Homo sapiens: one gene and its partner. The protein of the gene in region 2 interacts with the protein of the main gene of each other region in a pairwise test. Each region holds a gene or a part of one and is shown on either strand. Other genes may lie near its edges. The genes, in order: FUCA2 and KRTAP5-3.

Evidence for each region.
Region 1: the proteins of KRTAP5-3 (region 2) and FUCA2 interact in binary tests that used the Homo sapiens proteins (3 or more experiments, as listed by UniProt).

Annotation. Positions count from the first base shown.
Region 1 is NC_000006.12:143,490,231-143,506,975, reverse strand, and holds the end of FUCA2 (plasma alpha-L-fucosidase precursor), read left to right. Parts: exon of another isoform or gene 1-1,006; intron 1,007-1,518; exon of another isoform or gene 1,519-1,560; intron 1,561-2,723; coding exon 2,724-3,063; intron 3,064-4,410; coding exon 4,411-4,621; intron 4,622-4,853; coding exon 4,854-5,044; intron 5,045-9,478; coding exon 9,479-9,587; intron 9,588-11,128; coding exon 11,129-11,269; 3' UTR 11,270-12,164; downstream 12,165-16,745. UniProt on the Homo sapiens protein: Alpha-L-fucosidase is responsible for hydrolyzing the alpha-1,6-linked fucose joined to the reducing-end N-acetylglucosamine of the carbohydrate moieties of glycoproteins.
Region 2 is NC_000011.10:1,603,463-1,619,450, reverse strand, and holds KRTAP5-3 (keratin-associated protein 5-3), read left to right. Parts: upstream 1-10,987; 5' UTR 10,988-11,065; coding exon 11,066-11,782; 3' UTR 11,783-11,886; downstream 11,887-15,988. UniProt on the Homo sapiens protein: In the hair cortex, hair keratin intermediate filaments are embedded in an interfilamentous matrix, consisting of hair keratin-associated protein (KRTAP), which are essential for the formation of a rigid and resistant hair shaft through their extensive disulfide bond cross-linking with abundant cysteine residues of hair keratins.

The DNA of each region.
Region 1 (16,745 bases), on a different chromosome or scaffold from region 2:
TTTACTTAAAGCTGTTTGTTGAAGGGAGTGTGGGTTGCAAGTCAAAGTTCATCTTGGAATTGCACTCTTTCCTTCCCCTTCTCTGTAATGCATCCTGTGAATGCATCATGGGGATTATACTGCTATAGTCTTGCATCATTACGACACACCTGGCTGCACTTTTAGCCAACTCTTAGCTGGCCAAATGGTGCAAATAGTGGATGAACTGATAGTGATGAAAGTGATGAAAGTGACCCAGATCACCTGGAGGGAAAAGGATTGTGGAACTGTAATGGTTTCCAGAAAAATCAGAGGTGGTAGAAGAATATCTAAACCCCCACACATTTAAAATCCATTCTATTTTAATAGAATGGATTCCACCCATTACCACTCCAGTATTTGTAAGGCCAGGGAAGCATTAACAAATTGTTTTTGTTCCAACGGCTTGTTCATTCATTAGTTTCTTTTGCATGATCATCTTTGCCTTGGTATAAAAAAATTTGCACTGGATGTGGTCGCTCATGTCTGTAATCCCAAAATTTTGGGAGGCCGAGGAAGGAGGATCATTTGAGCCCAGGGGTTCAAGACCAGCCTGGGCAACATAGTGAGACCCTGTCTCTACAAAAACAAACAAACAAACAAAAACTAAAAAATTAGCGTAGTGGTATGTCTCTGTAGTCCCAGCTACTTGGGAGGCTTAGGTTGGAGGACTGCTTGAGGCTGCAGTGAGCGGAGATAGGCTTACTACACTCCAGTCTAGGTGGCGGAGGGAGATCCTGTCTCAAAAAAAAAAAAAAAAAAAAACGGGAAACTTTGCCTTATTGTTTTCTCCAGGGATGGGATGGGAATAGGAGAGGAGAACCAACACAAAAAATCTGGAATGATCATAGGATATTTTTCCCTTTGGCCACATTCTGGTAGCTTCATGATTTTCTCCTGTAGATATTTATCCTGCTGAGATGAATGTCTATCAAGTGTATTTGCTTGAGAACATGCTGATTTCCTGATGTCTAGGAACTTTCCCAAGCTGTATGGCACAAAACATTACATAGTGAGTTTATTTAATAAAAATTGTTAATCAAACTGTGAGGAGAGATGATGTAGCCCACATGTATACATTTTCTGGGACCCATGTTGTCAGATGTTTTCATTGCTCATGGAAAATGCATACTAAGCTCAGGAAGGAACGTCGCAGTGTAAGCTTATGGTGGTGATATTCAAATGAAGACTCAAGTGGTTTTAGTACTGTCTGACATTAGGGCCTGTCAAGTTGAGTAACTTTGAGTATGACTTTAGATATCAACACTGCTCTGAAGCTTACCACAGAAATGATAGGAACAAGAGTGAGCTGTTTTAAAAAGCTTATTAAAATGAATCTAAGGCTAGGTGCAGTGGCTCACATCTATAATTCCAACACTTTGGGAGGCCAAGGAAGGAGGATTGCTTGAGGCCAGGAGTTTGAGACTGGCCTAGGCAGCAAAGTGAGACCCTGTCTCTGAAAAAATAGACAAAATTAGCTGGGCGTGGTGGAGTACACACCTGTAGTCCTAGCTACTTGGTAGGCTGAGGTGGGAGCATCACTTGAGCCCAGGAGGTCGAGGATGCAGTGAGCGAAGTTCGCACCACTGAACTCCAGCCTGGGTGACAGAGCCAGAACCTGTCTCAAAAAAAAAAAAAAAAAAAAAAAAATCGAAAGTATGAGTCATTCTTAGACTTGTTCTAATTTACCAAGAGTAAAATGTTTCACCAAATGTACCTTATAAATGTCTATTCTCAAAGATTCTTTTAGATTTTAGTGGAATAGTAACAATGTATTTAAGTCTCTAGGCACTGATGAAATTTTTGAGGCTTTCATATTTATTATGTTTTAAGTATTTCAGTTTATATATCTCTTCTAACATTTTTATATGGAACAATCAGTAATCTAAATACAAATTCCTCTTAAAAACGAACCACTTCTAAGTGTTTGTATAAAGGTATACATTGTTTTTCTTATCTATGTAGTTGGTAGACTATTCACTTTTGGGTAATTTTATTAAAGAGGAACATCCAAGCTTATGATTTTATAGTAGGATGAGATTACACGTGGTGAGTATATTTTAAAGTATAGAACTATTGGGAATAGTAGGGGTTTTTTTTTGCCCCTCTGGTTAAATAAATAATCAGGCTAAAAGAGATTTGCTATACGTGGATCACCAGTGTTCTAAGAATCACACTATAATAAAATAAACAATCCTAAAACTAAGCAGTAGACTTCAAGCTTTGGTTTAGAAGACACTAAGAATCTTGCAGGAGTGCATCTCAGGATCTTCATAATAAATAGTGGTAGTCATCATTTAGCATGGTACATGTATATGTTCCCATCTTAGTTGTGAGCTGCTATTGTTGATTGTTTATACCTTGTGCTAGCAGTTGGCTGGAGACATAGCAGGGAGCACTGCAGACATGATGCAATCCCTTAAGGACCTTAAAATCTAAGAGGGAAAATACTGGAGATAGATCAGACCGTACAGTGATATACCCTGAAAGTTGCTTTTAAAAACCTGTCTCACCTTGTTTAAATTCTCACTTCTCATATAAAAGCACAATATATGCTATGAAAAAATGGCCATAAAACAGTCATTTGTAGGAGCAGGTATTTATATATCGCATGTACTATGTGATTTGTTTGGGCATTTGTGTGGGTTGAAATTTACTAAAATAAAGTTGACATGCTTACAAGGGTTTTCACTATAATTTTCTAGGCTTTACCTTGTGGGGGTCAGAATATTCGTGGAACTGGAATGCCATAGATGAGGGGCCCAAGAGGGACATTGTCAAGGAACTTGAGGTAGCCATTAGGAACAGAACTGACCTGCGTTTTGGACTGTACTATTCCCTTTTTGAATGGTTTCATCCGCTCTTCCTTGAGGATGAATCCAGTTCATTCCATAAGCGGCAATTTCCAGTTTCTAAGACATTGCCAGAGCTCTATGAGTTAGTGAACAACTATCAGCCTGAGGTTCTGTGGTCGGATGGTGACGGAGGAGCACCGGATCAATACTGGAACAGCACAGGCTTCTTGGCCTGGTTATATAATGAAAGGTGTGTATGCTATGAGATTGCTGCAGTTACCCTCCATATTCCTAATATATTTCTAACATTTTAATTCCTTCACCTCTTGAAATATTTCATTTTAAGTCATTGGTGGTATGGGGGGAGAAAATCATTGTAAATAATACTTATTAGATATATCACTATTTACTCAACATAATCAAGGGTAAATAAATCAGGAGTAAAATCCAACTCAATGGTCTGATTTTGAGATCAGACTAAAAATCACAGGATCAAGAACTTTGAAGGTGTTAATTTTGTGGGTCCCCCCTTTTTCTCTCCTACCCTGGTCCTTTATGGCCTCTATTCTGGGACAACTCTGTTTCTTCATCACTATTTCTGACTATTTGCTTCTGAATCCCGCAGACTGCTTCTTTTTATCCTCTTACCTTTTGGTCATCTTTGCTGCCCAGCCAATGTCACCCTTGTTTGTCTCCTCTTTTCCTTCATCGCAGCCTTTTCACTTTCTCCAGTTTTTTCCTATTGCTTCCTGGTATGTTCAAGGCTGCCCTATTAGAACAGGGAGTTCTGATTAAACTCCTCCATTAGGCTTAAACTATATGGACCAAATTTGCATGTACACTAGAAAGCACTGGGTATTGTGCTACGAAGTCAGGCAACCTTCTGCTTGCACTTCCTGGGCCCACAAAGGGCACAAATACAAATATTCTGAAGAACTCTTGATACTTAAAACAGCAGTGTGTCCAGGTACTCCTTCCAAGGGAAAAAACTGGGAGCCATCACTTCAATTTGTGACTCAAAACTGTTCCCTCTATGTGGCGTGTATTTCCCTCTTAAATATGCCACCTGCTATGATAAGCAATATTGTGGGGATATTTCACATGATATCAACAGTCAAATTTTCTGAGATTTTTCAATATTAGGCACAATGGTAAGAGAAAAAGAAAGGCTAGACTACATGTATGAGATCATTGAATCATTGAAAAGAAAAGTGTCTTGGGTATAAATTCAGTTTTGGCTACCATTTACAATATGGAAGGGAGCTTAAAATATTCATATAATACTCTTATGAGTGCTATATGTGCTGGGTACCAGGCTAATGTTTTACATAACTTATTTTTGTTCTAATCATAGATGAGGAAATTCATTATTCAGAGGAGTCAGGTAATTTGCTCTAGGTCTGGGAGCTAGAAAGTGACAAAGCCAGAACTCCAATCAACTCAGGTCTGTTTGACTTCAAAACCATGGGCTTTCCACTGTACTATGCCATGGTCCCTTTTCAGAATTGTATTTCAATTACATGTCTTTTCAGTGACATTTCTTTTTGTATAAAAAGCTTATACCTTTTGTTTTAAAAAATTGTATGTTTCATTTCAGCCCAGTTCGGGGCACAGTAGTCACCAATGATCGTTGGGGAGCTGGTAGCATCTGTAAGCATGGTGGCTTCTATACCTGCAGTGATCGTTATAACCCAGGACATCTTTTGCCACATAAATGGGAAAACTGCATGACAATAGACAAACTGTCCTGGGGCTATAGGAGGGAAGCTGGAATCTCTGACTATCTTACAATTGAAGAATTGGTGAAGGTACAGTGAAATGTCTGGTGGCTATTAACATAATATTCTTAATAGTGTGGTCATGTAGGAATTATTTCTTCTATGGCTCAATGGCCTATAAATATAGGACATTGTTCTATCCTGTGTTTGTTCTTCTAGGCAGTGACTATATATACATGTATAAATATATAAATGCAACATATTAGCACATTAAAGATGGAATTATTTTATTTATCTAAAAACATTATTCTTAATTTTTTAGCAACTTGTAGAGACAGTTTCATGTGGAGGAAATCTTTTGATGAATATTGGGCCCACACTAGATGGCACCATTTCTGTAGTTTTTGAGGAGCGACTGAGGCAAATGGGGTCCTGGCTAAAAGTCAATGGAGAAGCTATTTATGAAACCCATACCTGGCGATCCCAGAATGACACTGTCACCCCAGATGTGTGGTAAGTCATTCTTGTTACCAAGTACTCTTTTATAAAGGAAGAGATTTAAAATTTATCAGACATATAAAGAAGAGTAGGATAAAAAGAGAAATTGGATGAATTCCTACATATACAAAGCACTTTCCAAACTTTGCTTACTCTAATATAAAGAGAAGGGGAAGAATTTGCATGTTTTGAAACATTTATTGTTTATCAGATTGAGCTTACATCATTTCTAGGTATCTCCCAGTAGTGGACAAATTTTGGCTGAAAGTACTCAGCTCTTAGAAAAATTGTAAGCTGTTCAGACCAATGAAAAATGCTGAATGGTTAGTCTAAAACGGAGATTACTGTTTAACCAGTTCGGTAAATTCTGACTTTTGCAGATGTTGCATCCCATGAAATTAGCAAACAAGAGGTACCCAATGGCAGAGAAAATGTTAGATTAAAAATGAATCAAAATAGGGAGGGTTCAGGGAAGATGCTTCTCTCTGAGCTTGAGGAGGTTCTGTGTGTCAATGAGTACCCGAATCAGACTCCACAAATATGACAGTTTCTGATATGGTTTCTTAACATATATAAAATAAGATGAGTATTGGTGAAGTTCTAAAAATTCGCTTTCAGTTGCCACCTGAGTACTGTCTGATCAAATAGGAACCGAAAGATTAGACTAATTGTTCTTCAATCTACTTGACTTATGACTTAAAACATTAACAACCCATTGAATAAAATGGAGTAAGGCAATCTGGACAGAGCAAATAATTGTGGAATTTTAAAATGTTGATCTGGGAGAAGCCATAATGAGAACTCAATACCAATCTCTCATGTGACAGAGAATAGTAGAAATCTGGTTTTGGAATTTGCTTCTTACTTTTGAATACTTACATTTGAATATGAGGGTATCTGATCTGGGACTTCACAATCATTAACCATTATTCTATTGTGTTTATTTCAAGAAATAAACATAAAAGCTAAATATTTAATGTGGCTTATAAAACTGTGAGTCTGGCTCCTACCAACTTCCCTGCCACTGAGTGGTCCTGCTCTCCCTCCTCACCATAGGAGCCTTCTTCCCCCAGGGTTCATCATGCCCACCTTCTTGCAGTCACCTACAGACTCCCAGGTCAACCCTTAAAATCCTTTGAGAGAGCCCTGGCTTGCTGTCCCTGTCCCCAGAACTACTCTTCACATAATTCTTAGAGATTTAAATTTTTATTCACAGTTCTAATTACCTGCACCTCCTGTCTTCTAGGGGTCTTGTCCGCTTGACCTTTGTTACCTGTTCCTTTGCATTATCAATATACAAGGTCATATTGGTAATGCAAAGTCGAACTTCTTACTCAACACTTCCACTTGGATGCATAGCATCTTAGACCTGTACGTCCACAACTGAAGCCCTGAGTTTTAAATTTTTGCTGTAGACTAGCTCCACCCACGGTCTTCTCCATCTCAGTTAATGGCAGCTTTATCCTTTAGGTGGTTGTCAGGCCAAAAACCTTGGTGTCCTTAACTTCCCTTTCTTTTATAAACATACTTTAGACTTTGCATTACCAATAACTGAACCCCTTCCACGGCTCCAGTTTGAAGGATTCTGCCATCTACCTACCACTTCTTATATTTTGGCTCACTCTGCATGGCACTTCGGCTTCCAAAGGGATCTATAATCCAGTGATCATACTATCTTTTAATCCTATCATCTTTTCTCTGTCTTTTTCCTTATCCGGGACAGATTCTGTGGCCCATCACTGTAACTAATCTATTGCATACACCCAACTCCTGAACCCTTGCTCCCTCTGCCATACTCACTTGACGGAACATCAACTTTAAATACAGATCTACTTATTCCATGCCTGCTTCTGGACAGCTAACTGTTAACTATGGAAACACACACACACACACACGCACCCAGACACATACAATGTAAAATTATCTCACTTTTGGCTTTAAGGTCAACCCTTGTGTCCTGATCCCATTGCAAATCATCCACCCAAGGATTGTTATAGCAATTCTCCCCTTTAACTCAATTTCACTTGCATTTCTAGTGATCTTCCCATTTCTCTCCTTTCCTTTGTAGTAAAACGTCTTGAAAGGATTGTTTTCACTTGCTATCTCTAATTCCTTGCTACAGTTTTTCTCTTGAACCCCCTCTGGTCGAGCTTCCACCCCCACACTCCAGAATTGCTCTTCTCAAGGCCCACAATAACATCTGCCTTGCCAGTTCCAGTGATGAGTCCCCAGTGCTCATTTTCTTAACTTACTGGCAGTGTCTGCCTCAGTTTATCACTGTCTCTCCTGGTGTTTGTCGTACCTTTTGGCTCTTCCTTCTTAGTTAGTTCCTTTGCTGATTTCATCTCATTTTTCCAACCTCTAAATCTTGAAGTGCCCTGAGGTTTAGTCTTTGGACTTCCATTCTTCTCTATCTTTTTTTGAGTGCACTGGTGCGATCTTGGCTCACGGCAACCTCCACCTCCCAGGTTCAAGTGATTCTCCTGCCTCAGCCTCCTGAGTAGCTGGGATTACAGGTGTCCGCCACCAAGCCTGGCTAATTTTTTTGTATTTTTAGTAGAGATGGGGTTTCACCATGTTTGGCCAGGCTGGTCTCGAACTCCTGACCTCAGGTGACCCGCTTGCCTTGGCCTCCCAAAGTGCTGGGATTACAGGCGTGAGCCACTGCGTTTATCTTAATGTCCCAGGTGATCTTATCCATTTTCATGGCTTTAAATGCCATATTGATGATCTCCACATTTCTATTTCCAGTGCAGACCTCTTTCCGAACTCCAGCCTCAATAACTTCCTACTCAGCATTTCCACTTAGATGCATAGCATCTTAGACCTGTACATCCAAAACTGAAATCCTGAGTTTTAAAATTTTGCTATCAACTAGCTCCACCCATGGTCTTTCCCATCTCAGTTAACGGCAGCTTCATCCTTTAGGTGGTTGTCAAGCCCAAAACCTTGAAGCCCTTAGTTTCCCCTTCTTTTATAGTCACAGCCAACCCATTAGCAGATATCATCCTCTGCATCTTTGAAATATATTCAGAATCTGTCCACTTCTTATCCTCTCTGTGGCAACCCTCATCCTTTTAGTTTCCATTGTCTCGCCCCTGCCTGGATTATTTCAGTAGCTTCTTAATAGGTCTCTATTTCTACCCTTTAACCTATTCACCACAAAGCAATCAGAGTATACTTTTAAATAATAATGCCACTCCCATGGTCACATTTCTCCAATGGCTTCCAGTCTCAGAGAGAAGGCCAGGTCCCATAGATGCTTACAAGGGCCTATAAAATCTGGCTCCTATCGCCTCTCTGATCTTATCTGCCATCACCCTCCCCCACTTCCTCTCCTTCAGGCACTCTGCCTTGCTAGTGCATCAACAGGCAGAGCACACTCTTGCACTGGGGCTCCTGCACTTGTCATTCTGTCTGGAAGGTTTTCCCCAGACGCTCCCGTGGTGCTCTTATGGCGCTCCCATGGTTCTCTTCCATGCCACCTCTAAGAAGTCTTCCCTGACTATTCTGTTTAAAATAACACTCCCAGGCCCCTCCTTTCCTACCTAGCATGCCCTGTCCTTCTAACCTGGCTTGTTTTCTCCATAGCATTTAATCAACACCTGACATATTTGTTGATTCTAATTTCTTCCACTAGAATGTAAGCCCCATGAGGACAAGGACTTTGTTCAATGTTGTATATAGCTCTAAAACAGTGTCTAGCATTTTAAGATTTCAATAAGTATTTCTTGAGTAATTGAATGAATAAATGAATGAAATCCACTTTTTTTTTTGTCCACAGCATACTTCCCTTACCTTCTTCTTTGCTCCCATTCATCCTTTAAGTCTCAGATTAAATGTTATGTTCCTGGAGAGGCTTCTTTCTGATGTTCTAATCTAAAGAGATCCTTTTGTTATAATCTCTCAATTTCCTTTTCTTTCATGGTGCTTATCAGAACTCACACTTTCATATTATTTGTGTGATTGTTTAGTGTCTGCTTTCCCCACTCTAGTCTAAGCTCCATAAGAACAAGGACTATGTGTGTTTTGTTTTTTATTGTAACTCTAACACTGAGCACAGTACTAGGCACAGAATTGACACATGCATATCTTGTCTTGTTGAATGAATGAATGAATATAAAAATTTGAATAATACATGAAAAGCCATGAAGCTCTTGCATCCTGTCCCCTTAGATCATCTCCCTCCCCTTTTCAGCTCCATGAGAGCAGTCTGATGAAGAGGAATGCTAGCTCAGGAAAATCTTTGTCTTCCAAGAACTTCCTTTTGGTCTTGGGGGAGGAAGGTGTTTTTTTATACCACCATGAGGCTATTTTTCCTTCCCTTCTATTAGTGGTGACATTGTGGAAGTATCTGTAAAATAATTCCAGATTGTTCCTGATCCATAAATAGTGAGAAACATGGGATGTAACTTGCTACTATGCTCTTTATTTTTTTCTTTTAACCAGGTACACATCCAAGCCTAAAGAAAAATTAGTCTATGCCATTTTTCTTAAATGGCCCACATCAGGACAGCTGTTCCTTGGCCATCCCAAAGCTATTCTGGGGGCAACAGAGGTAAGAGGGAATTTTACCTTATTCCTTTAAATTGCTGATTAGAACATCTTGATGCAAACATTAACTTTTAAGGGGAGCCTTATAACTGTTTCACTTATACTTCATAAAAGGAATTGTAAATGAGCTCCAGCCAAGCATTGTGGCTCACACTGTAATTCCAGCACTTTGGGAGGCTAAGGCAGGAGGATGTCTTGAGGCCAGAAGTTTGAGACTAGCCTGGGCAACATAGCAAGACCCCTGTCTACAAAAATTTTTTTTAAAGTTAGCTGAGCATGGTGGCACGCACCTGTAGTCCTAGTTACTCAGGAGGCTGAGGCAGGAGGATTGCTTGAGCCCAGTAGGTCAAGACTACAGTAAGCTATGACTGCACCACTTCAGCCTGTCTCTGAAAAAATAAAATAAAATATAATAAAATAAAATGAATTTCACCAATGACAGTGTTTGGTCAAAATCTTTGAAACTTTTTGTTTCCCAGAAAACTAAGCTGATAAAACAGCTGCAGTATCTCTATGCATATCACTGTAAAATAGACATTATTCTTCACAGTCATTTTACGTTGTTCAAGTTCACTGCATGCATCCAAAATGATTCTTCTCATAAAACTAGAATTCGGATGCTTTCCCTGACACCCCACCCCAGAACATATCTGAATACAAGATGTCATGACTCTACTATTTTATGTTTATAAAACATTTTGGAGAAAGTTAGAGATTAATCTAACTGTTGAAACCACCAGATCTGGCATTGAGTTCATTCTGATATATTTTATAACTTATTTTTTTAAATAAATTATCCCTTTGGAGGTGAACTGTCCATATGGGGGTTCTCCTTGCATCACTTTTCTGCATTTCATTTCTAATACATGTGGTTGATGAGGCAGAAAGAAGATGAGTTCAAATCTAATGTTTAATTACAGCTTAGTAGCCCAGGTATGATACTGATTATGTTTTTATTTTATCTATGTTCTTTTTGGTGCCAATTAACATTATTATTTAAAAGCTCATGGGCTTTGTTTTCATATTGATCCACCTGAGAAGCAAAGTTTTTGGTTCAAAATAACCCTAGAATATGTAGGGAACTTATTTGAATTTGCTTAGTATAGTAAGACTAAGAATATAAAACAATTACAGTAATAATTGATCAAATTTATGTATTATTGATTAGTGGAGGTTATTAGAAAATCTGGGGGAGGAACGCTGAGTAGATACTTGGGCAGACTCTGGTTTCAGAGCCACTTTCTGCTCCTGATCCTCTCTTTAGCTTTTTCTCCACTCTGAGACTCCATTCAGTCTTGAAAATTCTCCTTCCCCAACCCCTGCACACTTCTATTTCCCTCTTGAGAGTAAAATAGAAGCAAGAATATAGAGGCAAGATACATACACTCAATTGGATGAAGAGTGATTGTGAATCACTAAATAAAGGTAAAAATGAACCTCTTGTCTACAATTTTGTTTGAACTACTAATCACTCCTTCCCAATAGAAAGTGGGTGAGATAAAGAGATAAATTTGGAGACATTTGCATGTATGTTTTTAATTTCAGGTGAAACTACTGGGCCATGGACAGCCACTTAACTGGATTTCTTTGGAGCAAAATGGCATTATGGTAGAACTGCCACAGCTAACCATTCATCAGATGCCGTGTAAATGGGGCTGGGCTCTAGCCCTGACTAATGTGATCTAAAGTGCAGCAGAGTGGCTGATGCTGCAAGTTATGTCTAAGGCTAGGAACTATCAGGTGTCTATAATTGTAGCACATGGAGAAAGCAAATGTAAAACTGGATAAGAAAATTATTTTGGCAGTTCAGCCCTTTCCCTTTTTCCCACTAAATTTTTTCTTAAATTACCCATGTAACCATTTTAACTCTCCAGTGCACTTTGCCATTAAAGTCTCTTCACATTGATTTGTTTCCATGTGTGACTCAGAGGTGAGAATTTTTTCACATTATAGTAGCAAGGAATTGGTGGTATTATGGACCGAACTGAAAATTTTATGTTGAAGCCATATCCCCCATGATTATATAGTTATGCATCACTTAATATGGGGATATTTTCTGGGAAATGCATTGCTAGTCAATTTTTTTTTGTGCCAACATCATAGAGTGTATTTACAAAATCCTAGATGGCATAGCCTACTACACACCTAATGTGTATGGTATAGACTGTTGCTCCTAGGCTACAGACATATACAGCATGTTACTGAATACTGTAGGCAATAGTAACAGTGGTATTTGTATATCGAAACATATGGAAACATAGAGAAGGTACAGTAAAAATACTGTAAAATAAATGGTGCACCTGTATAGGGCACTTACCACGAATGGAGCTTACAGGACTGGAAGTTGCTCTGGGTGAGTCAGTGAGTGAATGTGAAGGCCTAGGACATTATTGAACACTGCCAGACTTTATAAATACTGTATGCTTAGGCTACACTACATTTATAAAAAAAAGTTTTTCTTTCTTCAATTATAAATTAACATAAGTGTACTGTAACTTTACAAACGTTTTAATTTTTAAAACCTTTTTGGCTCTTTTGTAATAACACTTAGCTTAAAACATAAACTCATTGTGCAAATGTACAAAAATATTTTCTTTCTTCATATTCTTATTCTATAAGCTTTTTTCTATTTTTAAAATTTTTAACTTTTTACTTTTACAGAAACACACACATTAGCCTAGGCCTACACGGGGTCAGGATCATCAATGTCACTGTCTTCCATCTCCACATCTTGTCCTGCTTAGAAGGTTTTCAGGGGCAATAATACCCACGGAGCTGTCATCTCCTGTAACAATGCCTTCTTCTCACAGACCTCCTGAAGGGCCTGCCTTATGCTGTTTCACAGTTAACTTTTTTTTAAGTAGAAGTACACTCTAAAATAATGACAAAACATATAGCACAGTAATGCATAAACCAGTAACCTAGCCATTTATTAAGTACTATATACCTTACATCATTTTATGTGCTAGATTTTTATATGACTGGCAGCACAGGTTTGTTTATACCAGCATCACCATAAACAACATGATTATCGTGTTGTGCTACCTTATGATGGCTATGATGTCACTAGGTGATAGGAATTTTTAGCTCCATTATAATCGTATGGCACCACCAACATATATGCAGTCCATTATTGACTGAAAAGCTGTTATGTGGTACATGGCTATATTTCGAAACAGGGCCTTTAAAGAGGTAACTAAGGTTAAGTGAGGTCATAAGGGTGGGGCCCTAAAGCCAATAGGATTGATGTCCTTATAAGAAGGGGAAGACACACCAGGGATACAAGTGCACAGAGGAAAGGCCATATAAAGACAGTGAGAAGGTGCCATCTGCAAGTCAAGGAGAGAAGTCTTTGAAGAAACCAAATCTGCTGATACCTTGATCTTGGATTTTCAGCCTCCAACACTGTGAGAAAATAAATTTCTGTTGTTTAACCTGAGTAGGGGTTGTGTTTTCTATTCCCATTTGCTGCAAGGTATGTTTACCAAAGGCTGTTTGAGTTTGTGACTGTAGTGGGTCAAATAGTGTTCCCCAGTAATTTATGTCCACCTGCAACCTCAGAATGTATTCTCACTTGGAAATCATGTCTTTGCAGATGTAATAGGTAAGTATTGAGATAAGCTGATATTGGATATGAGTAGGTTCTAAATCCAATGACAGTATCCTTATAAATGACAGAAAAGGACACAGAGACAGAAGGCCATGTGACGACTAGGCAGAGATTGGAGAGGGAGCATGGCCCTGCTGACGCCTTGATTTTGGATTTCTAGCCACCGGAAGTGTGAGAGAATAAATTTCTCATTTTAAGCCACTTGTGGAGTGGTAATTTGTTACAACTGCTCTAGGAAACAAATACAGTTACCAAACAAACTGATTATGCCAGGTGAACTTTTTATGATGATAATATGAGCCAAGGACGCAAGCGTGAAGAGTTCTAGTTTCTGTTAAAGCCAAGTTAAATACTTTGGAAAGACTAGATAAAAGTTTGTTGACTTTAAAAATTTAAAAAAAAAAAAAAGCTATTGGTTAACTGTGGGCAAAACTGCTCTAAAAGATTGGGGGAAAATATAGTAAAAATCTTCAAGAATTCTGCATCTGTGGTTCACACCTATGTAATGTAATGCATGTAATTTGTATAAGAAAGATAATTAGATTACAAGCTCCAGCTTGTAATCCCAGCTACTTGAGAGGCTGAGGTGGGAGGATCCTTGAGGCCAGGAATTCAAGAAAGACAATTAGAGAACATCTATCAGCAGACCTATATGGGAAGGCAGCTATGCTGTACCACTATATCACCAACAGCCCGACTGAGTAGATGTACACTAAAAAGTTAGAAAAAACCTGGATCCTATAGTAAATAAGTGGTAAATATAGAATATTTAAAGTTAAAATGTCTATATATGTACTTTTTATGACACCCTGATTTAAATAACTTTTTAGATTAACCAAACAACTAAAGGTTTCTGATGAGAGGGCTCCTGCTATACTATTAGAAGGCAGATTTGTACTATCTAAGAACAATTAACTTTATTTTTGTATTTATTCATTTTTTTGAGACAGAGTCTCACTCTGTCGCCCAGGCTGGAGTGCAGTGGCATGATCTCAGCTCACTGCAACCTCCGCCTCCCAGGTTCAAGCGATTCTCCGGCCTCGGCCTCCCAAGTAGCTTTAAATACATGTGGTTTTTACCTTGTCATCTCTTCCACTGCCACAGTTATACAGACGCATATGATTCCAGGAGATAATTTTCAGCTGATCAAATTTGTATCCTTACAAGGCTACACCTGTTTAGTCTCAAATTTTCCCTGGATGAAATCCTGGGTTAATTTTGTTGGAAGAGATGTGTGCCCATTACACACTCATTCCCAAATTTACCAAAATGCTATTTTTCATTTGCCCCATTAAAAGTGAGAATATCATATTTTGTCAAATTTTGAAAAGAAGCATATTCCCTCCTCTCCACCACTACTTTTTTTTTTTTTTCCCAGACAGGGTCTCACTCTGTCACCCAGGCTAGAGTGCAGTGGTGCAATCATAGCTCACTGCATGCAGCCTTGACTTACTCGGCTCAAGTGATTCTCTCACCTCATCCCTACAAGTAGCTGGGACTACGGACACATGCCACCATGCGTGGCTAATTTTTTTGTAGAGACAAGATTTCACCATGTTGCCCAGGCTGGACCATTACCTTTTTTTTTTTTTTTTTTAAAGTTAATTACAGCATTTGAGGAAGAGGATCTAATTCCACACAAAATGGAAGACTCTAAAATGTACCCATTAAACTGCTAAAAAATAAATTGAGTGGTGAGAATACCACATAAGCCCAGTTTAGATTCTGAGTGCTGTCACCCTGTGATTACAATTATACAGACTCTTCCAAGCTTATAGCTAGAGCTCCTGGAAGCTATTTTATACACTGATGCAAGGACAAAAAAACCACAACTCAGGAAGGAATTAAGTCCTGAATTATTGGCTTCATCACATCCACCCTCTCCACCCCAAAACAGCACAAAAGAAACAGTGACCACACCCTGTAGATCTTTTTGTGTAAAAGAGGTAATGAAGACCTGGGATGGGAACAAGTCATGAAGATCTGTCTTTAAAAGGTCCCTTTCAGGTAAATTTGTACACACCATCAAGCAACAAGCCTCTCATCAGTTAGGGTTAGGAAACCAAGGTTCAATTCTCAGGAAATCACAATTTCATTCATTTACTCAATATGAATTTACAAGGTGCCTATATATTATCAGCTTCCACTTGCAGCCATTTCTAGATAAAAAAGAAACCTGGCATCTCTACAGGGGCCACCAAGTTCCCCAAATCTACCACTGAAGGGACCTTTTTGGAACTGGGTTTCTTCTGTACCCCTGAAAGGGTAACACCTTAAAGCTGAATCATCTTTAACCTGGAGGTCCAATATGACATTTAGCAATACTTGCATCCCAGCCATACAACATTAAAAGATACACTAAATTGTGAAGGTATCTATGCTGCAAAATAATTTAAACAATTCTACAGCATTCATTTATGCTTGAAATTCCAGTCCTAGACCAAGCTTGTGGCCACTAGCATAGATGTTCTTGCCACCCAGGAGAGCTGACAGTGTCAGTATGAAACCTGGCTTTAGGGTTTAAGTGTATCCTAAACCTATCAGGCTGGAGTTGTTCACTTTAGTGGAGAAGTGGGCTTTAGGATCGATCTGATACTTGGCTGCTATTCTGAAGCGAGTGTTCCTGTTTCTTGCTGTCCCAGCGAGACTGACAGCAGTCTCCAACTTCTTGCTCACCTTCTGCTAATTGGAGCTGCCAAACTCTGTCCCGTCATTCACATTAGTGTGAAGCTGGAATTCATCAGTCTTGTGGCCAACCGCAAAGTTGCTCTGGGTCACTCAGGACTTTGTGGTCTCAAAATTGACCTGGTAGCTGGCCAGCCAATCCTCATAACCCAGCACTTAAGAGTGCCTCGGACTGAAGGCTCAGCAATGTCCAAATCCACGTCGCAGCCCAGGTTAATGTGCTCCCACTTGTATCCTGTCTTGATTTTAGCACTTTTCCCCCAGTGTTAGGCGAGAAGGATGAATGGAGGGTCAGCTTCAGTCCACATGCTAACTGGTCTTCCATAGTAATCTCGGTGCCTAGTGTGTTGTCAGTGTTCCATTTCTTTGCAAATGTCAGGCCATATTCGGTCTATCTGTACTTGGTTTCCAGACTGCCTGTCACTTTGGTGGTCTCAGTGTTGGCTGAGCCTGAGCTTGTAAATTCCAATCCATTCTCAGATTTTGTTTTCAAATCAGGTTTTATTAAGCCAAATCCATATCCCTTGGTGAAGACATGCTTGGCAGATTTGCCAAGATTAGCATATGTGAGTGGCACAGCCATCTTCTGCTCAGAGACAATGCCAGTGGGCTCAGAGGTGTCTATGGTGAGGGCTATGGCTCCACTACCTATTTTTAAAAACATTCTAGACACAAACTCCCTGGCAGTGAGCTTCAGGCCTAGCCAGGCCTTAGAAGAGATGTCATAATTTATTTTCTACCTTCTACTGTTCAGCTACATGTTACGCTGGAGGAACATAAAACAATGTTACTGAAAATATATGTCAACATACTAATGATATATAATGATTTATTTACTTTTGCCCTAATTACCCTTCTAAATGAAGA
Region 2 (15,988 bases):
CACTCCCACGTGGGTCGTTGTGGCTGCATTTATCAAAGCATTACAAGAACAGGGTGAGCTCGAAAGAACCGGCTGATTTGCCAGCCAGGAGGAAAGTTCTAGAAAGCCTGGAGAAACCTGGGGAGCTACAGAGTTCTCAGTTCTGCCTGGTAAATGGTAAGACTTAGAAGGCTTTTGAGCAGCAAAGAACAATTGAAGCTCAAATGAAAGGAATTTTTTTTTTTTCTTTTTTTTATTTGAGACGGAGTCTCACTCTGTTGCCCAGGCTGGAGTGTAGTGGCACGATCTCGGCTCACTGCAAGCTCTGCCTCCCAGGTTCACACCATTCTCCTACCTCAGCCTCCCAAGTAGCTGGGACTACAGGCGCCCACCACCACGACTGGCTAATTTTTTTTTTCTGTATTTTTAGTAGAGATGAGGTTTCACCGTGTTAGCCAGGATGGTCTCGATCTTCTGACCTCATGATCCGCCTGCCTCAGCCTCCCAAAGTCCTGGGATTACAGGCATGAGCCACCGTGCTCGGCTAAAAGGAACCCTTTTTAAGGGTACACTTTGATGAGGTTCCATGAGAACAGACCACACTGAGGTAGGGAGTTGGTAGCTGCCTCCAGCCTGGCCAGTGGGGCAGGAGGGGCTGCTGTGGGGTCAGTGGGTCCGGAAGAAGACGCCGGAAACTTCTCCCCCCATGGCTCACTTGGCGTTCTCTTTGCTTGGCCTGTGGCTCCTGTGGGTAAATTCATGTCCTGCTGTGTGATGAAGAGGTTTCTGCAGGGAAGAGGGGGAGGTGTTTGGCCCAGGCAGGACCCAGTGACCTGCAGATCAAAGATGGCCTCACTACCACGGTAATGGGCACCAGAGAAGAGCCTGCCGCCAGCCATTCGTTGGAAACAGGCCCAACAGAACCAATGCTGTCTGTGCTTGTGGTGTGGGGGTAGAAGAGAAAGAGAAAGAAACCCAAAACCTTCCTTAATAATGAACAGATGTCACATGATTGTTAGCAAGATTTAAGACATAGTTGTAACTCTCCATGAAATCAACAAAGAGAAAATCACGTGTTGGACATTTTATGCATAATTTTTTGATAAAATCATAGGATTGCCTGCTGCAACATCCTTCATTTCACAGTTGGCCGTGACAGAATGACGCTGAAGGGAGTCGCGTAGCAAAAACAACTGAGCTCCTTCTCATCCTTCACGGACGCCTCTCTTTGAGGTCAACTCACCCCATTGGGAAGCCTCTATCTTGCCTCCTTGACCAGCTTCTCTTTCAGGGTGAACCGCCTGATCTTCACCGTGGTGGCCTTGCCTGGCTCCCAGCAGATGTTCTCCAATGTCACTTTCAGTGACATCACAGAATCCTACGTTTCTTTTCTTGCAAGCATTGCAATTTTACTTAAAATCTGCATCGTAAATATGACTGTGGAAAATGTATTTAAGAGAGCTGGTTCTGCAAAGACATGAAAGACATTTGGGAGGGGGTGTGTGGGAATAAGTGATATTGTTAAGTAAACGAGCTGCTTGAGTGGAGAACACTTTTGGAAGTGGTCAGCTTGGCCCCATCTGTGCTAAAAATACAAAAAAAGAAAAAATTAGCCAGATGTGGTGGTGGGCGCCTGTAGTCCCAGCTACTCGGGAGGCTGAGGCAGGAGAATGGTGTTAACCCAGGAGGCGGAGCTTGCAGTGAGCCGAGATGGTGCCACTGCACTCCAGCCTGGGTGACAGAGCAAGACTCTGTCTCAAAAAAAAAAGAAGTAGTCAGCTTGGGCTTGGCTCACTCCTGTAATCCCAGTACTTTGGGAGGTTAAGGAAGAAGGAACACTTTAGCTCAGGAGTTCAAGACCAACCTGGGTGACATAGCAAGACCCCGTCTCTGCAGAAAAATGAAAGAATTAGCTGGGCATGGTGGTGCACACCTGCAGTCCCAGCTAATGGGGAGGCTAAGGTGGAAGAATCTCTTGAGCCTGGGAGGTTGAGGCTACAGTGAGTTATGATTGCACTGCTACACTCCAGCCTGGGTGACAGAGTGAGACCCTGTCTCAAATAAATAAAAAATAAATAAATAAATGACATTGTCAGCTTGTTTACTTGTTTGTGATTATTTTCTTTTTTACCTTCCTCTTCTTGTTTTTAATAGAGATAGAGTCTCACTGTGTTGCCCAGGCTGGTCTCGAACTCCTGGGCTCAAGGGATCCTCCTGCCTCAGTCTCTCGAGTAGCTGGTACTACAGGCATGCACCACTGCCACTAGTGAATATTTTGAAGGCCTGATGATTTACAATGAGCACAGGGAGACCCTGTATGGAGCCTAGAGATGTTGGCTGGTTGTGGAGTGGTCACCGAGGGAGCATCTTAGCATGAATCTCTGGTCAGAGTGATCGGGGAACCAGACTCAGTCTGGAAACAAGCAGGGGACACCTTCAGCTTACAGACAGCAGATTGTGGAGTTGCTCAACTTCCATAATTGCAGGGTCCAATTCTTCAGAATCATCTATGTATCTATCTATGTATCTATTTATCTATGTATCTATCGATCATCTAGGTATCTCTGTATCCATCTATGTAAGTATGTAAGTACCTATCTATGTATCTATGTATCCATCTATGTATGCATGTACGTATGTATCTATGTATCTATTTACGTATCTATCGATCATCTACGTATCTCTATATCCATCTATGTATGTATGTAAGTACCTATCTATGTATCCATCTATGTATGTATGTATCTATCTATGTATCTATGTATCCATCTATGTATGTATGTGTGTATGTATGTATGTCTGTATCTAGCTAGCTAGCTACGTATCTATGTATCCATGTATGTATCCATGTGTGTATCTATGTATCTATGTACCTATCTATCTATCTATCTATCTATCTATGTAGGGACAGAGCCAGCCCAGTGCAGAGCCCTGGCTTCCTTTCTGTGCCACCAGCCACTCCACCTCAGTCTCCATTGCTTAATTCTCCTCCTCCAGGCCCTGAGCACTGGGCGGTGCCAGGTTCAGCCGGGGGGTCTCTATCTCACCTGCGACCTCCTCCATGTCTCTCACAACACCTTCCCCTCTAGGTTCCACACTCACAGGCCCAGGTGCCTGCTTCTCATGGACATCTGGCCTTTCAAACTAAGCACATCCCAGACTGAACTCCTCCTCCTTCCCCTGGAACCAACGCCTTCCCAGCCTTCCCCATTGTAGTTCACAGCAGCTCCATCCTTCCCAGGGCTCAGGATAGAAGCCTGGGCATCCTCTTGACTCCTCTTCCACCCTCCACATCCAATCCAACAGCAAATCTCCAAGGTTCTACCTTGGAAAAGTATTTGGAATCTGATTCGCCAATTGCCTAATTGGTGATTTATCCAATGACCGCCTTCACTGCCACCACCCGATATTGACAGCACCTCGTGCATTCCAGCTACTCTCCCACACACTTTATAAACATGACTCCCTGAGTATCTGTGAGGTATGCACTCTTTTTTCAATTTAACTTTTTATATTCGGGTGATTGTAGATTCACCTGCAGTTACTCATAAGAAGTTACTCGTAAGAAGTTACTCGTAAGAAGACACAAAGGGGATCTCATGTACCCTTTCCCATGTCCCCGGTGACAGCATCTGGAATGCAGGTAACATAACAACACAGTGATATTGACCTTGGCACGGTCACAATACAGATCATTTCTCTAGCAAGGACCCCACGCGTTGCCCTGATGCAGCCCCCACATTTCCCTCCTGTTCTCCATTTCTGTAATTTTGTCATTTCGAGAATGCTCCATGAATGGAAACACACAGTGTGTAACCTTTTAAGACTGGCTTTTCCTACCCAGCATGATTCTCTGGAGATTCATCTGGGTCATCGAGCGTCTGTCATTCCTGCCATTTCATGGCTGAGACGTGTCCCCTGGCAGAGGTGAACCAGTGTGTTTCCCCTTCACCCATCAAGGGACATGTGGGTGTCTCCAGCATTTGGTGATCATGAATAAGCCTCCTATTAACATTTGTGGACAGGTTTTCCGTGTGCACATGTCTCTGGGATAAATGCCCAGGAGTGAGATTGCTGTGTTGAATGGCGGTTGTGTGGTTAGTTTTTTTCATAAGCTGCCAACCTATCTTCCAGAGTGGCTGTACCATTTTGCATTCCCACCATCAACATACGAGTGGCCCAGCTTCTCTGCCTTTTGCCAGCATTTGGTGTCGCTGCTATTTTTTTGTTAAGCCATTCTCATAGGGGCATCATGATATCGCATTACTGGTTAGTTTGTCTTTCCTAAAGTCTGAGGATGTCAAACTTCCTCTCACATCCTTATTTGCCACTGTACGTCCTCTTCAGAGAATTGTCTCTTCAAGTCTTTTGCCCATTTTTGGATCGGATTGTTTTTGTGTTTATGTATGATTTGCTGTTGTGTTTTGAGAGTTCTTTACATGGTCTAGATTTGTATATTCCAGTCCTTTGTCAGATATGTGGTTTGTAAATATTTTGGTTAGGGTGCAAAGTTATTTTATTTATTATTTATTTACTATTATTTTTAGACAGGTTCTCACTTTGTTGCCCAGGCTGGAGTGCAGTGGTGCAATAATGGCTCACCGTCCCCTTGATCTTCCAGGCTCAAGTGATCCTCCCAACTCAGCCTCCCAAGTAGCTGGGACCACAGGTGCACATCAGTATGCCTTTTTTTTTTTTTTTTTTGTAGAGATGGGGTCTCCCTAAGTTGCCTAGACTGGTCTCAAAATCCTGGACTCAAGTGATCCTCCCGCCTTGGCCTCTTACAGTGTTGAGATTACAGGCATGAGCCACCATGCCTGTAAGCCAAAATTCTTTTTAATATACTGCTGAATTCTATTATGAATAGTATATTTTTCTTTTCCTCTGTCACAGCAACTGGCTGCCTGGGTTATGGAATAAGAGGCAGAGCCCCAGGTGTCTTGTGGTGGTGGGAGGTGTGGGTTGACTCAGCTACTGAGATCTTGGTGTGGTTTGTTGCTGCAGCACAACCCAGGCCATCCTGACTGACACTGGGTGACCGAGGGGCTGGAAAAGAAAACATGCCGAGAAAGGCAGTTTCCACACGAATACACAAAAATCTATACTGCATTAATCAGGGTTCTCCAGAGACACAGAACCAGTGGGAGATTAGGTACATAGGTAGATTAGATAGATAGATAGATGCATACATACATAGATAATAGATACATAAATGGATAGATAGATACAAAGATAGATAATAGACATATAGATACATAGATGGATATATATAGAGATACATAGATGATAGATAGATACATAGACACATAGATACATACATAGGTAGATACATACATAAATAAATAGATGATAGGTAGATAGATAGCTACATAGACAGATACATAGTTAGATAGCTACATAGATAGATACATACTTACATAGATACACAGATAGATACATGGATACATAGATACAAAGATAGATACATAGATGGATAGATACATATATAGATACATAGATGATAGATACATGCATAGATAAATAGATACATAGCTACATAGTTACATAGATAGATAGATAGATAGATACATACATACATACATACACACAGAGAGAGATACACAGATACACAGATGATTATGAAGAATTGGCCCATGCGATTCTGGAGGCTGAGCAGCTCCATGATCTGCTGTCTGTAAGCTGAAGACCTAGGAAAGCCGGCGGGGTCATTCTGTTCAAGTCCAAAGGCCCGAGAACCAGGGAGCTGACGGTGTGAGTGTAAGTCCGAGGGCAGGAGACCGATGTGCCAGCTGGAGCGGTCAGGCAGAAAGGGACTTCCTCCACGTTTTGATCTATTCGGGCCCTCAGTGGATCAGAGGAAGCCACCCACATTGGGGAGGGCGTCTGCTTTCCTGAGTCCACTGATCCCAATGCTGGTCTCATCCAGAAACTGCCCTCACCGACCACCAAGAAATAACATTCAGCCAAATATCCGGGCACCCTGGGATCCAGCCAAATTGACACATAAAATTAACCATCACATATACCTGATTCAAGATTTTAAAACAGATGACAAAAGTTTTCAACTTTTACAGAAAAATATATCATGATCTCAGAGAAGTATTTCCTAAATAAGGCCCCAAATACTCTAATTCTAAAGGAAGAGGTGGGTGAATTGATAAGTTAAAATTAAACACTCAAGGATTCTCATTTAACAAGGGAAGGCCTCGCGAGAATGAAAAGATGAACCAAGGAGGATCTTGCAACATAAAAGCTGACCACACGATAGTTTGCTGAGTAAATGACGAGTAATGGGAGCAGCACACCAACATGGCACATGGATACATATGTAACAAACCTGCCCGTTGTGCACATGTACCCTAAAACTTAAAGTATAATAATAATAAAATAAAATAAAATAAAATAAAATAAAATAAAGCTGACCGTGGCTCAGCATTTGAAAACCCAAAGAGCTCACACCAATTAGCAAGCAAAGAAAACAACTAAACAGAGGAACCAACTCATAGACATCAGCAGGCATTTTATAAAAGAGGAAAGACAGGTCGGGCGCAGTGGCTCACACTTGTAATCCCAGCACTTTGGGAGGCCGAGGCGGGCAGATCACGAGGTCAGGAGATCGAGACCACGGTGAAACCCCGTCTCTACTAAAAATACAAAAAAAAAAAAAAAAAAATTAGCAGGGCGTGGTGGCGGGCGCCTATAGTCCCAGCTACTCAGAGAGGCTGAGGCAGGAGAATGGCGTGAACCCGGGAGGCGGAGCTTGCAGTGAGCCGAGATCGGGCCACTGCATCCAGCCTGGGTGACAGAGCGAGACTCCGTCTCAAAAAAAAAAAAAAAAGAAAGAAAGAAAAGAAAAGAGGAAAGACAAAGACTTGGTGGGTGCAGTTACCTTTGTTCCCACGGGCTCCATAGTCTGGTGATGGGGGTGGGGGCTGGAGTGAGCAGGCATTTCCCAGTCTTAGAACTCCAGCTTCAGCCTTCAGCCTTCTCCAATTGCCCACATGGCACAGGGGCTCTCTCCAGGGTCTTTCCCGTGCCTCAGCTGTCTATTGCAACAGCAACGGGTTTTTTGGTATTTGAGATGATCAAGTTGGTTCTAAAATTTAGCTGGAGAAGTAAAGGAATTGGAAACAAACAAAACAATCTTTAAAAAGAAGAATGAAGTTGGAGTCTCACAATACTTAACTTCAAAACCTCCCATAATGTCACAGTGACGCTGTGTTTGCATTAGGAAGCGGCATACAGACCTGCGGAGCGGGACACAGGAAGAAACTCGCCATCGTGTCGGCTGATTCTCATTAAAAACACCAGTGATTTCAGTGGGATAAGCACGGTTTGTTTGTTTGTTTGTTTGTTTATATCGAGACAGAGTCTCACTCTGTCACCCAGGCTGGAGCGCAGTGCTGCAGTCTCGGCTCACCGCAGCCTCTACCTCCCGGGTTAAAGCGATTCTCCTGCCTCAGTCCCCTGAGTAGCTGGGATTACAGGCGCCCCCCACCATGTCTGGCTAATTTTTGTATTTTTGGTAGAGACAGGGTTTTGCCATGTTGGCCAGGCTGGTCTTGCACTCCTGACCTCAGGTGATCTGCCCTCCTTGGCCTCCCAAAGTGCTGGGATTCCAGGCGTGAGCCACTGCGCCTGGCCAGGAAGGTCTTTTTATCAAATGCTGCTGAAACAATTGGATGAAAATGTGAAAAAATGGATCTCAACTCCTACCTCACATTACACGCAAAAATTAGCTTGAGATCCATCATAGAACTAAATATAGAAACTAAAACTCTAATGCTTCTAAAGGAAATGCTAGGAAAAAGGGTTTTCAAAGAGGTCACAAGAAAGCACTAGCTGTCAAAACAAATGTTAACGTGGACTTCAAAATCAAAAACATTTCCATATAAAAAGTTCAGATAACAATAAGGCAAGTCAAATACTAGAAAATTATATACAATATATATATTCTACATATATATATTATATACACACATATACACATGTATATGAAATATATATGTAAATATATATACGTACATATGGCAAAGCACTTCACATATTCATTCTTGATATAGAATTTATGAAGAGTTCCAACAACTCAATAACAAAAAGACAAAAAAAAATCACAATAAAATGGGCAAACAATTTTAGCAAAACTTTTTAACAAGAAAGATGTGCAAATGTCCAATAAGTGCAAGAAAGAATCCTTGCGAACATTAGTCATCAGAGAAACACAGGTCAAAATGCACACGAGATGCGATTTTACACCCATCCGATGCCTCACATTTGAAAAGCCGCTGGCTGGTACTGACAGGCCTGGGGCAGCGGACACTCTCAGGCATTGCTGGGGAGGGGGAAAGCAGCATGAGCATTTGGAAAGCTGTCTGTTTCTTAGCAAGTTAAGCATACACTACTCTATGGTCTAGCAAGGCCAGTCCTCAATATTTGACCAAAAAATTAAAACTAAAAACATGAATACGGAAGGACTGGAAGGCATGATTATGTGTTATTCATCATCGCCCCAAACTGTGAACGATTCAAATATGTATGAACGTGAGAACGGGGGAACGCAGTGGAGAATATTTTTACATGGAATAAGGGGGGCCCCACCCCTCATATTTTCTTATGCCCAATTTCTGTCTCCAAAGAAAAAAGAAGTAAAAACTAAATCCACAGGCAGACAGCCCGGTGCCACACCCTGGGCCTGGTAGTTAAAGATTGACCCCTGACCTAATCGGTTATATTATCTATAGATTCCAGACATTGTATGGAAAAGCATTGTGAAAATCCCTGTCCTGTCCTGTTCCGTTCTGATTGCCGGTGCATGCAGCCCCCAGTCACGTACCCCCTGCTTGCTCAATCGATCACGACCCTCTCACACAGACCCCCTTAGAGTTGTAAGCCCTTAAAAGGGACAGGAATTGCTCACTTGGGGAGCTTGGTTTTTGGAGACCTGAGTCTGCCAATGCTCCCAGCTGAATAAAGCCCTTTCCTTCTACAATTCAGTGTCTGAGGGGTTCTTGTCTGCGGCTCGCCCTGCTACAGAAACACTATGCGGTGATTACAAAAGAAGAAGAAGGCCAGGCGTGGTGGCTCATGCCTGTAATCCCAGCACATTGGGAGGCTGGGGCAGGTGGATCGCTTGAGCCCAGGAGGTCGAGGCTGCAGTGAGCCATGAGCGCACCACTCTGCACTCCAGCCTGGGTGACAGAGCAAGACCCTGTCTCAAAAAAAAAAAAAAAAAAAAAAAAAGAAGAAGAGCAAATCATTGACACACAGAATAACATCGTGAGGGAAAGAAACCAGAGTACATTTTTAATGATTTCATTTTTGCAACATTCAACAACAGGCACAACTGGTCAGCAGAGCTGTGCCTGGAGCGATGGGCAGGAAGGGAAGGCGGCGAAAGGGAAACTTCTGGGGGTGAAGCAGTTGGTCATGGTTGGAGTGATGGGCACACGAGTACATGTTTAGCGGAACTCATGGAATTGTACACTCAAAATATGTGCAGAGCCCAGGAGACCAAGGCTGCAGTGAGCTAGGATCACACCACTGCCCTCCAGCCCGGGCGACAGAATGCGACCCCGTCTCAAAAAAAAAAAAAAAAAAATGCAGCCCAAGCCTGGTGGCTCATGCCTGTAATCCCAACACTTTGGGAGGCCAAGGCAGGTGGATCACCTGAGGTCAGGGGTTCGAGACCAGCCTGGCGAACATAGTGAAACCCCGTCTCTACTAAAAATACAAAATTAGCTGGGTGTGGTGGTGGGTGCCTGTAATCCCAGCTACTTGGGAGGCTGAGGCAGGAGAATTGCTTGAACTCGGGAGGCAGAGGTTGTAGTGAGCTGAAATTGCATCACTGCACTCCAGCCTGGGTGACAGAGGGAGACTCAGAAAAAAAATTTTTTTTCACTGCATGTAAATTTTACCTTAATAAAAAATTAAAATTTGGCTGGGTGCAGTGGCTCACACCTGTAATCCCAGCACTTTGGGAGACTGAGGCGGGTGGTTCACCTGAGGTCAGGAGTTCGAAACCAGCCTGCCCAACATGGTGAAACTCTGTCTTCACTAAAAATACAAAAAAATTAGCCAGGCCTGGTGGTGGGCGCCTGTAATTCCAGCTACTGGGGAGGCTGAGGCAGGAAAATTGCTTGAACCCAGGAGGCAGAGATTGCAGTGAGCCGAGATTGCGTCACTGCACTTTAGCCCTGGTGACAAGAGCGATACTCCTTCTCAAAAAAAAAATATTAAAATTAATCTTTTAGAAAATAAAAGTGTGTTAGAGAGGTTGGCTAATCAAAATTTTTGTAGCCTTCAAGAAGAATAAACTTGAAGAATATCCATTGATTTGTAGAATTTTTACAAAGAATTAATAGAGGAAAACTCAAAAGCATTAGAAAGGGTCCTGTTCCTCTGTTCCCTCTGTGAGCCCAGCTTGCCTGAAGGGAACGTGGGTCTAATCCGTGTCTGGAGGAGTGAGCCAAACCGCAGGAGGAAGAGGTAAGAAAGACAAAGGAGAACCAGGGCCACACTCAAATCCATGCTCTTCAAAACTTTGTTTTACAGATTTGACAAAATATTTATACTTGAAGTTTTTAAGCGGTGGAACCTATAGACAGCCTTTCTTTCAGCTTATTTTTTTAATTTTTATTTTATTTTATTTTTTACCAAATGACCATCCTTGATATAAACACCAATGCCAGGGGGTGGAGGGTCTGCATCGCTGAGGAGAGCCCTGAGCACCAAGGACAATGGTCCACCCTTCGGCCAAGCAACCACCGCCTCCCAGGCTCCTGGGACACCCACTGGAGAGGGAGCCCAGTGTCTTCTAACAAAGGGAAACACCTATGAGGAAGAGGCCAAATTTAGAAACCAAGGAAAGGACAGCTTGGCTTGAGCTGATGGTGGCTCATGGGATTGTGGAGAGATTAAAAATAACACTTGTGCATGTGAAATAGCAGAAACAACAACAGAAGTATTCACGTGTTCAGTATAAACACCTGGGCAGGAATATAAAGAGCCCGGGCTCAGAGAACTCCACACCTGCACACCTCCCTCTCACCTGCTCCTCTACCTGCTCCACCCTCAACCCACCAGAACCATGGGCTGCTCTGGCTGCTCTGGAGGCTGTGGCTCCAGCTGTGGGGGCTGTGGCTCCAGCTGTGGGGGCTGTGGCTCCGGCTATGGGGGCTGTGGCTCCGGCTGCTGTGTACCTGTCTGCTGCTGCAAGCCCGTGTGCTGCTGTGTGCCAGCCTGTTCCTGCTCCAGCTGTGGCTCCTGTGGGGGCTCCAAGGGGGTCTGTGGCTCTTGTGGGGGCTGCAAGGGGGGCTGTGGCTCCTGTGGAGGCTCCAAGGGGGGCTGTGGCTCCAGCTGCTGTGTGCCCGTCTGCTGCTCCTCCAGCTGTGGCTCCTGTGGGGGTTCCAAGGGGGTCTGTGGATTTCGTGGGGGCTCCAAGGGGGGCTGCGGTTCTTGTGGCTGCTCCCAGTGCAGCTGCTATAAGCCCTGCTGCTGCTCCTCAGGCTGTGGGTCATCCTGCTGCCAGTCCAGCTGCTGCAAGCCCAGCTGCTCCCAGTCCAGCTGCTGTAAGCCCTGCTGTTCCCAGTCCAGCTGCTGTAAGCCCTGCTGCTGCTCCTCAGGCTGTGGGTCATCCTGCTGCCAGTCCAGCTGCTGCAAACCCTGCTGTTCCCAGTCCAGCTGCTGTAAGCCCTGCTGCTGCTCCTCAGGCTGTGGGTCATCCTGCTGCCAGTCCAGCTGCTGCAAGCCCTGCTCCTCCCAGTCCAGCTGCTGTGTCCCAATTTGCTGCCAGTGCAAGATCTGAGGCTCTGCCCACAAACCTCAGTGGGTCCTACAGATCCGGGCTCTCCAGGAATGATTGCAGCTGTGTCCTGAATTCCTGAAGCACGTCTCTGAATCTGTCCTCCTCTGGACTAAGGCAGCCTAGCGTCCAGGGCTCAGTACTCAGCCGCTCAGCCTCTGAGGTCATGAGGGCTTCTGGCATGCTGGGTCCTGCCCATCAACCCTCCCGGAATCCCGTCTTCCTTTCCTGACCCCACCACTTCAACCTTCTCAGGGCTTCAAGATCCCACATCCCTGGGCCCCTCCTGTGAGCCTGCTGGAAACACGCTGACACTGGAATCCTCCGACCTGCTGCCGCCTCTCCCCGGTCCCCGCAACCTCCTGGCTCCTCCCCGCTTCGTCTTCATCCTGCCTGAGCTGCCACCGCTCCGATTGCTTTTGGAGTTGACCTAGAGGACTCGGAATTATTGGAGACCCCAGGATCCTCTCCTGAGGAGGAGGGGCGCCCAGTCTCCTCTTCTACCTCCGACCTGGCCCTGTTTCTTTCCCCAGGGCTTCGCCTTGTAAGTGCCTAGGCTAGATCTTCTAAATAAATACGATCTGCACCTCCCACGAGTTTGCATTGTGATTCTTTTGTTTCAACTTCTGTGTGATTAGAGAAATGTACACTTTCCACAGAGTTGCACTCCCAGGCATTTGGGAACCCCCCGTACCCTGCTGTGTGAGTTTGCTAGGGCTGCTCCACAAACCGTGTGGCTTAAGCAACAGGAGTGGATTGTCTCACAGTCTGGAGTCCGGAATCCGCCATCGAGGTGCCTCAGGGCCGGGTCCTCCTGAGGCCTCCCTCCGTGGCTTACTGATGCCGCCATCCCTATATCCTCACGTACTCATCCCTCTGTGTGTGTCTGCGTCCTCATCTCTTTGCATAAGGACACAGATTAGACTAGGGCCCACCCTACTCCATTAGGTCCATGTTTGAACTAATCACCCCTGTAAAGACCTATCTTCAAATAAGGTGCCATTCTGAGATACTGCGTTGAGGACTCCAACATATGAACCAGGGGGCACAACTCAGCCGTGGCATCCACTTGGCTTGGGGCGTCTCCGTCTTTCCCATCTTCCAGGATACAGAATTGGGAGGCCCCTTGGGCTTCTCTCCCCCACAAGTCGCCAAATCCCTCAGCATCTCCTGGAAGGCTTCCTACAGACATCTATTTCCTGCCTCCTTGTGACACCTCCCTACACAGACTTCTGATTCAGGTGCCCACCTGTCCCTTCCCTGCTGCCTCTGTCAGCTGGGGCTGCCAGAACAAAACCCACAGAGTAAGCCTGGAAGACGGAACAACAGACACCATTTCTCCCAGTTCCGGAGGCTGGAGGGCCTAGACCAAAGTCCAGCATGTTCGACTCATGGGGAGGGAAGGCAGGAGCTGGCGGAGGAGGAGGTGGGCTGCAAGGCTGGAGCCCCCAGACCCAGGCGTCTGTAACAGCAGAGCGCTGGAGGCTGCTCGGGAAGCCACCGTCTCACAGGATGGTAGGCAGTGAGTGCCTGGCGGAACTGCGACAAGAAAGTGAAAACTCAACAACACGGAAGTTTCAGAAATTGCTTCTGAGTTTCTGTTTCGGTAGTAAGGTTGACTAGACACTATTCACAACCCTGAAACTTCTAAAAGGACATGGTGAAACCCCGTCTCCACTAAAAATACAAAAATTAGCCAGGCATGGTGGTGGGCGCCTGTATCCCAGCTACTTGGGAGGCTGACGAAAGAGAATTGCTTGAACCCAGGAGGCGGAGGTTGCAGCGAGCCTAGATCGCACCACTGCATTCCAGCCTGGGCGACAGAGCTAGACTCTTTCTCTAAATAAATAAATAAATAAATACATAAGTAAGTAAATAAATAAAGCTTTAAAGTGCTATGTTTAAAGCATATATATTTTTTTTAAGTCACTGAGCTGTTGAAAAACTAAATAATCCTCAGAGCCAACAAGCAAGAGAGAGCTGGACCCACAGAGGAAGGTGAAAGTCAAAAACGGCCTCCACCCCATGGCTGGACCAGAAAGAGGCCCTGTCTGTTTTCTTCCACCTGTGTTATTGGAAAAAAATATTTGACAAGGAAACATACACCAAACCCAGCTCTTTTGTTTAAAAGCCAATTGCAAAAACACAGAACGAGTGACCTGGTTTAATGGTGGCTAAGAACGATAGAAAAAGGGCCTGGTCTATCTGAGTTAAATTTGAGCTCAGGATGAGGCTAGGGTGTGGTGTTGCTGCCGAAATCCACTCTGTGGTCTGAGGGTGGATTCGTAGCCACACGGTGTCCAACTCAGGGGTGAATGAGCCCCTCCCCATCAGCCCATGCTAGTTCCTTTAATGGACTTTTTTTTCAGAGCAGTTTTAGGTTCACAGCAAAATTGAGAGGAGTGGGCCACAACATCCCCCGTGCTCTACAATGAGAGCACTTCCTCAGAGCCCAAGACAGTAGGCCACTCTCTGGGGGTCCCCAGGGGCTCAGGGTGTGGCTGGCCTGTCCCCAGCTCAGGAGAGACCAGGAGTTGTCTAACAGTTCCTTCATTGGAAGTCTCTGTGGATGCCTCCCACGGACCTGAATGTTGAGGGCCCATGATTTCTACAGTACATTGAGGAGCCGGGATGCAGGGCCCCTATTTCCTCTATGTGTGCCCTGGACACCCCAGGCACAGGGGACAGGCCTGGCCCTGCAACCCCACCAGGGTCCTGACACCAGGCTTGGCCTGGCCTTGTGATGAGCAAGAGAAGAGGCAGGTCCAGAGACACCTCCTGCACGGGATCGCCTGCTTCCGACCCCCATGACAGGCAGTGGCCAGCATGGTGTGGAAGGGGCCAGGATGGCACACGGCAGGCTGCCCTGTAGCCCCAGATGGCTCCTGGCCTCAGGAAATTAATATCCACTGGAAAACTCATCACTTGGAGGCTGCCAGAGGGAAGGGTGAGTGTCACGTTCCTGCAGCCATGGCCAGCCAGCAGCATGCCCTGTGGCCTCTGGCCCAACCTGTGGGACAGGGACCCCAGACAGGGCACAAGTCCCAGTCCCAGAGGGTCCTGGCCTGATGCTAACCCAAGCCCTGTCAAGGGAAGGGCATCAGGGGCGCCATGGGCACCCAGCAGCAGCCAGGAGGATCACACAGGGGACTGAGCCTTCTGTGGCAGTGGCCGGACCCAGAACTTAGCCAAAAGCAGGGCAAGCCTCCTGGATCAGAGCGGGTGCTGCTGCCTGTGCATGCCCAGCAAGGCTGAGCCAGTGATGCTACCAGGGTCCATGAGGCAAGGGTGGGGCAGGAGCAGGCTGACCAGCCGCCAACCTCGTCCACTCCAGGAGGCAGGGATGGCCAAGCTCCCACGCCCTCGTGGCCGCCACCTGACCACCGATGGGGCAGAGGCCTGAGGCCAAGCAGTCAGTGCTGGGGCCCTGCTTCCAAGGTCTACAAACTGCTCCAGTCCGGAGGGCCAAAGATAATTGGGCACGTGAGGGCCCAGGAGGTCAGTTCCCTACGTCTGCCATCCTTGGCAGGTGCATTTCATGGTCAGAAAAAGTCAAGAAAGGTGACACCTCTCAGGTGTTATTATGAAGGACTCTCCCAAGACACATCTTTTTTTACATTTATTTTTATTGTACATATTCATGGTGGACAACATGGTGCTGTGGTAAACATGTACACTACTGAAATGATGGCTGCAATTAATATCTCCAACACCTTCCATGGTTCCTTTTTGTATGTGTGTGTATAAGTGTGTGTGCATGGGTGTGTTTGGATAAGTGTGTGTATGAGTGTGTATGCATGTGTATGAGTGTGTGTGTTTGTATGATTATGTGTGTATGAGTGTGTGTAAGGTGTGTTTTTAATTGTGTGTGAGACTGTGTGTATGTATGTATGTGTATGAGGGTGAGTGTGTGTGTGTATGTGTGTGTATGAGGGTAAGTATGTGTGTACGATGTTAGTGTGTGTGTATGTGTGTGTGGTAGGAGCACCTGGAGTCTTCTCTCAGCACACCTGCCACACACAACACCTGACTGTCACCTGTAGTCCTTGCACTGTGCACTGGACTGCTCGGCTCCCTCTCCTACACAACCGCAAGCCCTTGACCTCCTCCTCCCCCTTTCCTTCTTCCTCCAGACCCTGGTAACTACTGTTCTATTCTATGTTTCTATGTATTTGACTTTTTCAAAATGTGGAATATATGCATACATCT